Linked DNA regions of Homo sapiens. Changing the gene in region 1 together with any one later gene gives a genetic interaction. Each region holds a gene or a part of one and is shown in the gene's direction. Other genes may lie near its edges.

Evidence for each region.
Region 2: changes in MASTL (region 1) and LARS1 together harm fitness more than expected from each alone (negative genetic interaction), as found in Homo sapiens cells (one large-scale study listed by BioGRID).

What each region holds. Positions count from the first base shown.
Region 1 is NC_000010.11:27,154,067-27,158,151, forward strand, and holds the start of MASTL (serine/threonine-protein kinase greatwall), read left to right. Parts: upstream 1-1,285; 5' UTR 1,286-1,360; coding exon 1,361-1,546; intron 1,547-4,085. Other genes in the region: ATP-dependent zinc metalloprotease YME1L1, read right to left, coding at 112-144. UniProt on the Homo sapiens protein: Serine/threonine kinase that plays a key role in M phase by acting as a regulator of mitosis entry and maintenance.
Region 2 is NC_000005.10:146,155,151-146,158,650, reverse strand, and holds part of LARS1 (leucine--tRNA ligase, cytoplasmic), read left to right. Parts: intron 1-855; coding exon 856-923; intron 924-1,022; coding exon 1,023-1,248; intron 1,249-3,500. UniProt on the Homo sapiens protein: Aminoacyl-tRNA synthetase that catalyzes the specific attachment of leucine to its cognate tRNA (tRNA(Leu)).

The sequences.
Region 1 (4,085 bases):
ACATCACTTCATTTCTAGAGTCCCTTCTGAGAAATCGCTTCCACGAGCGCAATTTGCAAACAGCCACGGGCAGGGCGGGAGGAAAAAAAATGGGCTGAATGCCTGGCTTACCTGGGGTTGCACCGTGCTCGACAAGGAAAACATCTCCGGCGGGCCCTCAGCGACCTCACCCGCCTGCCGAAACTGTGCCCCTCTGTCCACGGCCCGGCGGGGAGGCGCTGAGCCCTTCTTTTTTCCTTTTTCTCCGACCCGTTGCCCCTCACTCCTCCCAGAAACGGAAAATGGCCTCCCCTTCCTACAGCTACTGCAACGACAGACAATCCGCCCCGGAAGGCGAGGCGCTAACTCAACAGTACTTCCGGGGCAAGTGAGCGCCCACAAGGCCAAGTGCCTGCGCGTTCTTTCCCGCGGAAGTAGTTGACATTTACAAGGAGCAGCGCCCCCAAAGGTCTTTAGCTGTTTTTTAAGGGGAGAACAGCCTTTACCCTCTTTGGACTTTTTCTTCGTTTTTTTTTTTTTTGGAGACGGAGTTTCGTTCTTTCGCCCAGGCTGGCGTACAGTGGCGCGATCTCGGCTCACTGCAACCTCTGCTCCCCGGGTTCAAGCGATTCTCCTGCCTCAGCCTCCCGAGTAGCTGGGATTACAGGTGCCCGCCACCACGCCCGGCTGATTTCCTCTTAAGACTTTCTACAGCTTCCTTATGAAATCTTCTGACTGGGCCTTGAGCAATAAGGTCTTTTGCTACAATTTAGTGCTCTTTTCCTCACACTAAATCGAAAACTCTCCCTGTTGGTCCTGATCTGTTTCAGTCAGGCAAATTACATCCTGGGAAAACGTCAGATGACAGGGGAGGCCACTCGCTTCCTGCTCATCCAGTTTCGACACTTTCTGTGCTTTCATTAGCTTCCAGACCTCAGCCCTGGCCCTCGCTTTACTGTACAGTCAGAACTGGTTTCTACGCCTCGCGAGGGTGGGAGGTCGTGTATGGGAGGAGGACCGCTTCCCACCAGCCTCGTTGGGAAGCCAGGAGAAATCTCTTCAAATCCTGCGATTCAGAGTCAAGTCCCAGTCGTCCTTTTTCTGGTCGGCCCAGAACTGTTTGTGCCTCCTCCCTCATGAGGAATGATGTCAGTGGGGCCGCGGTCGCCGCCCACGAAGAGTGTAAGGCTGCGAAGTCGGGGCTTTCCCGACGCCCCCTCCGTCCGCGTCTGCGTAGGGGAGGTGACGAGGGCGGGGCGCGGCGGCGGGGTGACGTCACGGCCGCGCGCGGCGTGGGCGGAGCCTCACTTTGAACCCAGTTGGCGGGAGTGGCTGCTCGCGGAGGGGCAGTGTCTGCGGGGCCGCTGTATGCTGTCCAGCGATGGATCCCACCGCGGGAAGCAAGAAGGAGCCTGGAGGAGGCGCGGCGACTGAGGAGGGCGTGAATAGGATCGCAGTGCCAAAACCGCCCTCCATTGAGGAATTCAGCATAGTGAAGCCCATTAGCCGGGGCGCCTTCGGGAAAGTGTATCTGGGGCAGAAAGGCGGCAAATTGTATGCAGTAAAGGTAGGAAGTCAACGAGTAGCAAGGAAGGGGTTAGGCCCTTCGGCCCTCCTTCCTGCCCCACCGGCTTGGGCAGGCCCCGGGGTTGCTGGAGCGAGGAGTCTGGGTGGCCTGGCTTGCTGAAGCCTCCAGAGCCCTGCGAGCTGACTTCTTTTTGGGGCGACATCAGCGGTCGGGTCGGGTGTCTCGCCTCTGTTCCGCCCTTCCCTCCATATCTCAGATGCCCAGTGAGAACAGCAAAGTTTGACTCTCTTCTCCCTGCCCAGCGTTAGCAAATGAGGAAACTGAGGCCAAAGGCAAAGGGACTTGACCGAGGTGATTACATCGGTCTTAGTACAACAGGCACTTAAAGCCAAAGCCGTGATTCGTAGTCTCACCCTGGCTTGAGTTAGGTTTCTTTTTTATTTTTTTTTGAGGCGGAGTCTTGCTCTGTTTCCCAGGCTGGAGTGCAGTGGCGCAATCTCGACTCACTGCAAGCTCCGCCCCCCGGGTTCACGCCATTCCCCTGCCTCGGCCTCCCGACGAGCTGGGACTACAAGCGCCCGTCACCACGCCCGGCTGATTTTTTGTATTTTTAGTAGAGACGGGGTTTCTTTAGTAGAGACGGGGTTTCACCGTGTTAGCCAGGATGGTCTCGATTCCCTGACCTCGTATTCCGCCCGCCTCGGCCTCCCAAAGTGCTGGGATTACTGGCGTGAGCCACCGCGCCCGGCGAGTTAGGTTTCTAAATCCAAAAGGTTTTTAGTAATTAGTGGTTTTGTTTACCTTGTTTGCTTTGACGTGCAGAATCGTCGAAATTTTTCTACCACAGAAGAGTGATTAATCTGTAGGCACTGATAACTTTTTAAGTTTTATTCTTAACCAGAAGAAAGATTACTATTTTCTGAGAAGTCTTTAATAATTTTTTTTTAAGACAGTCTTTCTCTGTCGCCCAGGCTGGAGTGCTGTGGTGCAGTCTCGGCTCCCTGCAGCCTCTGCCTCCTGGGTTCAAGCGATTCTCCTGTCTCAGCCTCCCGAGTAGCTGGGATTACAGGCGCGCGCCACCATGCCTGGCTGATTTGTGTAGTTTTTTTTTTAGCCGAGATTGAATTTAGCCAGGTTGTTTTGGTTATGTTGGCCAGGCTGGTCTGGAGCTCCTGACCTCAGGTGACCCGCCCACATCGGCCTCCCAGAGTGCTGGGATTACAGGTGTGAGCCACCGCGCCCTGCCCTGCTATGAATTTTTTTTTTTTTTTTTTTGAGATAGAGTTTCACAGTGACGTGATCTCAGCTCACTGCAACCTCCACTTCCCGGGTTCAAGCGAGTCTCCTGCCTCAGCCTCCCGAGTAGTTGGGATTCCCGCCACCACACCGGGCTAATTTTTTGTATTTTTAGTAGAGACGGGGTTTCACCATTTTGGGCAGGCTGGTCTCAAACTCCTGAGCTCAGGTGATCTGCCCGCCTCAGCCTCCCAAAGTGCTGGGATTACAGGGGTGAGCCACCGTGCCTGGCCTTATGCTGGTTCCTTTTTAAGTGCTTTTCTTCTACCCTTTTGTGCTCTTCTCCACCTGTCTTATTCATGTATTAAGATTCATCTTAGCTCCCCTTCACACCTTCCCTAATCTTTCAGAATTGGAAGATCTGATTGAATTGGTTACTTTATATGTTCCTGAGATTTTTACTTTTCCTTCTACAGTACTTAGTCATGATCAGTTGAAATGAAAACACCAATCCATGTGTTCAGTCAGTATTTGCTTAGCACCCACCCTCTTTGTGTCTACGAACTGGACAACAATGGGGAACAAAACACACATGCCCTCATAGCCAGTGGAATGATAGGAAAAATCATGTTACCAGCTTGCTTTGTCAGTTTCCCTCAGTTTTCTTAAAGAAAGGAGTTAAGGCAGGAATTTATCATGTACTAATGATTTTATTAAGTACTCGAATAAATCTTTGAAAGAAATATGCCTTTTTTTCTTATAGCAGTCCTGAGAATTGATCCCAGTGTTACTGACTATTCAGTTTAGTGCTCCAACTTTATTTTTATTTATTTATTTATGTATTTTTAATTTTTCTTAGTGCTCCAACTTTAATAGTTCTGTTTCTGTACAGATTACCTTGAAACTTGAAAAGAGTAATTAGTTTTCTGTAAGACAGCATTTGGGACTGTTAAATTTCAGTAGTTCTAATCATTCCAACTTAAGATTTTTTTTTTCTAGGCAAACTTCCGACATTCTTCCTCTTTCTGATTCTATCCCCATCTATCAAAAAATCAGAAGTTAAAAAAAAAAATTAAGTAGTTACTCCACGCCCAGGTGCTAGTTATCTGTGGGCTTATGAGGAATGTAACTGTCTTTTGACTTCGTTATCAGAACAGTGGAACAGAATTTTTTTTCTATTAATATGCAGGGCAGTCTGGGAATATTTAATTTTTTTTCCTTCTTGAAAGAGATTATGATACTTCTGCCATTTAATACCAAGATAAGCAATTCTATCTTGAAGATTTTTTTAAACCGTCTTAACTATTTTTTGTACGTGCTTTCCTGATAGCAGTGTAAGGTC
Region 2 (3,500 bases), on another chromosome or scaffold:
TCATGTGCCTTCTTGCTTATTTCCAAAGTAATTCTAGCCATGCCTAGAAGTTCATTCTAATTCCTGTAGAACACATTATTAACATTATTCTCTGAAATACTTGAATAAATCAAGAGTAAGTGATTTGGCTAAATCCATGGCAAAGTAAAAATCAATGACAATGCCAGCATCTGAACTTATGATTCCCTATGATTGCATCATTTTTTATTACCATCTTTGAACATATTTTCAAAATCAGCCTTCAATTTTGATGTAACTTATCTAAGTGAGAGTTGATCAAAATTTTAAAAGATTTGAGAGACTTAAGACCCAGTAAAGTTTTAATATAGCCAATGGCAGCAATATCCTAGATTTCAGTAATCCTTTGTAGATTTTTCAAAGCATTTTTCATCTGTTATCTTGTGTGTTCCTCAGGACAGTCCTATCTGAGACGCAACATCCTTATTTTACCAATAAGGAAAGAAAGGCTTAGAGAGATTATGACTACCTTGGGTCTAACCATTAGTAAGGGAGCAAACTAAGTTTAGAAAGCACATTATCTCTGACCTCTGGTCTAGTGTCTTCCTTTGATGACTACTATGTGGGACATGCCCTGGGATGGAATTAGGGTTGATTGTGTCTTCTCACCTTCATTTTGGCAAACACTATTTTGGGCGATTACTCCAAATCTCTCCTAACGTACTAGACTTCTGTGTGGGTATAGTTAGCACACCACTGGCAATCTCTTCTCTGCAAAAAAAAATTAATAATGCAAGAACCCATTTTAGGGACTTGAATCAGATCTCTCACATAGATTAGTAGGTTTAAGGCAAGTCTTTTTTTTCCTTCAAATTTTTGTATCGTTTATTTGCTTAGGGTGTTGGACCTCAGGAATATACTTTACTCAAATTGAAGGTGCTTGAGCCATACCCATCTAAATTAAGGTAGGTTTGCCAGAGTAATTGCTTTATCATTTCTGAACCATCAGATAGTTGTTACAGAGTTGACATGTTTTTACATCAATATTTGTTTTTTTTTCTCAGTGGCCTGAAAGGTAAAAATATTTTCTTGGTGGCTGCTACTCTCAGACCTGAGACCATGTTTGGGCAGACAAATTGTTGGGTTCGTCCTGATATGAAGTACATTGGATTTGAGACGGTGAATGGTGATATATTCATCTGTACCCAAAAAGCAGCCAGGAATATGTCATACCAGGGCTTTACCAAAGACAATGGCGTGGTGCCTGTTGTTAAGGAATTAATGGGGGAGGTAAGTTGGATAGCAGATTTTTTATTTTAATGCGTAAATTTCAAGGAAAATTTCAACAATGAATATTGAGAAAAGAGCATTACAACCTTAAAAAATGAGGTGTACATGCAGTAAACTGTGTAAGTCTTGTGTGTTTTGGTGCATTTTCATATGTATATACACTTACGTAAACACCACCTAAATCAAGATATAGAACAGTTTTAGCACTCCAGAAGGCTCTCTCATGTCCATATCATTAGTACTCACCTCTCTCCTCCAAAGGTAACCACTGCTCTGACTTCACCAAAGATTAGTTGTTGTTCTTGAACTTTACATAATGGAATTGTGTAGTCTGACTGTTTTGTGTCTAGCTTCTTTTGCTTAACATTATGTTTGTGAGATTCATACATGTTGTAGGAATAGTTCTTTTTTTATTGTTGTGTAATATTCATTGTATGACTGTATCATTAAGATAGCATATTTTATTTTTAGGTTTCAACTCGGTAAATATCTGGTTGAAAAATATAGGCAGTCCTCCCCAAGAGATTTAATAGCTGCATTAGTCATTATATTATTTTAAAAATACTATTACCTGAATTCCTGGTAATACTAAATTTGGAATTGTAGCTGCCTTTTTTTTTTTTCATGTGAAGAAAGTCTTGGTTGATATTAATTAAATATGGATGGTTACACAGCTCATCTACTTTATTTTATTTTTATTTTTTTTTTTGTAGACAGTTTTGCCCTTGTTGCCCAGGCTGGTGTTCAGTGGCGCGATCTCAGCTCACTGCACCTCTGCCTCCTGAGTTCAAACGATTCTCCTGCCTCAGCCTCCTGAGTAGCTGGGATTACAGGTGCGGGCCACCACGCCCAGCTAATTTTTTGTATTTTTAGTAGAGACAGGGTTTCATCATGTTGGCCAGGCTGGTCTTGAACTCCTGACCTCGGGTGATCCACCCACCTCGGCCTCCCAAAGTGCAGGGATTACAGGCGTAAGCCACTGTACCCAGCCTTATCTACTGTATTATCAATATTTCTGAGTGTGTTTAATTCCATTTAGTGAATGCTGATCTTTGGTATCTTAAATAATTTTTTAAAAAGAAAAATATGAGTAGAGTACCATCTCAATTCTTTTAAATTGAACTATTTTATTCCTTATTTAATACTTTGATTGCAGTATATTTACAAGTCCCAAAATTCAAAAAACGCAAAAAGATACAAAAGTTCCCCATTCTAGAGGTAGTTAGTAATATCTGTGTCTTGTGTATCCTGGTAATATTTCATGTATACACAAGCGAATACACACATACTCTTTGTCCCTCTGTTTTTACACAAATGGCAATATACTTTATATGCATTGTACCACATCTTGCTTTTTAATTTGTATCTTGGCAATCATTTTGTCAGTACATAAACAGCTTCTTTATTCTTATTTTTTATAGCTACATAGTATTTCATTGTTTGGTTGTACCACAATTTACTTAACCATTCTCTATTAATGGATATTTGAATTGTTTCCTGCCTTTTTCTTTTAAAAGCAGCACTGCCACATCTCTTTAGTTCCTAATGTTGGAATTTTGTCTGAGAAGTTCTTGGGAACAGTATTAGGGACATACATGTTTTCCTATTCTTAATGCAACTTTTCTCCCTGTTAATTTGAGCAAATTCTGGCGTGAGGGACATGGATGTTATAAATTGCAAAATAGTTTCAACATTTAAAATGGTTATAATATTTAGCTGTCATCCATATGACTGCAAATTCTATAAAGGCAGGTTATAAGTACATATATGAATAAAGAGGGGTGGGTGGGAATTATGTGGAAAGGAAAAGTGTGTTCCTTAGCTAGAGCAAGAAGCTGCAAATTCTTTGTTGCCATCTGAGAATTTGGGTCTAAAATTGCTTAATCTTTTGGATTTTTTCAAGTGAAATTAGAACTATCCTTTTACTTTGTCTTCATAACTACTATTTTAAATAGATGTATAGTACCCATTCTTGTTCTTGTAACATATTTTGTTAAATCATTTTTTCTATCATTGAAAGCTTTAGTTGTTTCCAGGCTTTCCTAGTATAATTAACTCAGCATTGGGTAGACTTGTTTAAGAAAAAATAATTAGTTGTTGTTGAGTCTGAGTTACATGAACATTTTGTGGCTTTTGCTGTGGATTCCTATATTTTCTTCAAGGAGTACAATGTCACAAACAATGTATTAGTGTACTCATGTCATAATATTGACAGATTTAGTTATTATAATTATTAAAAATTATTTTTCCGG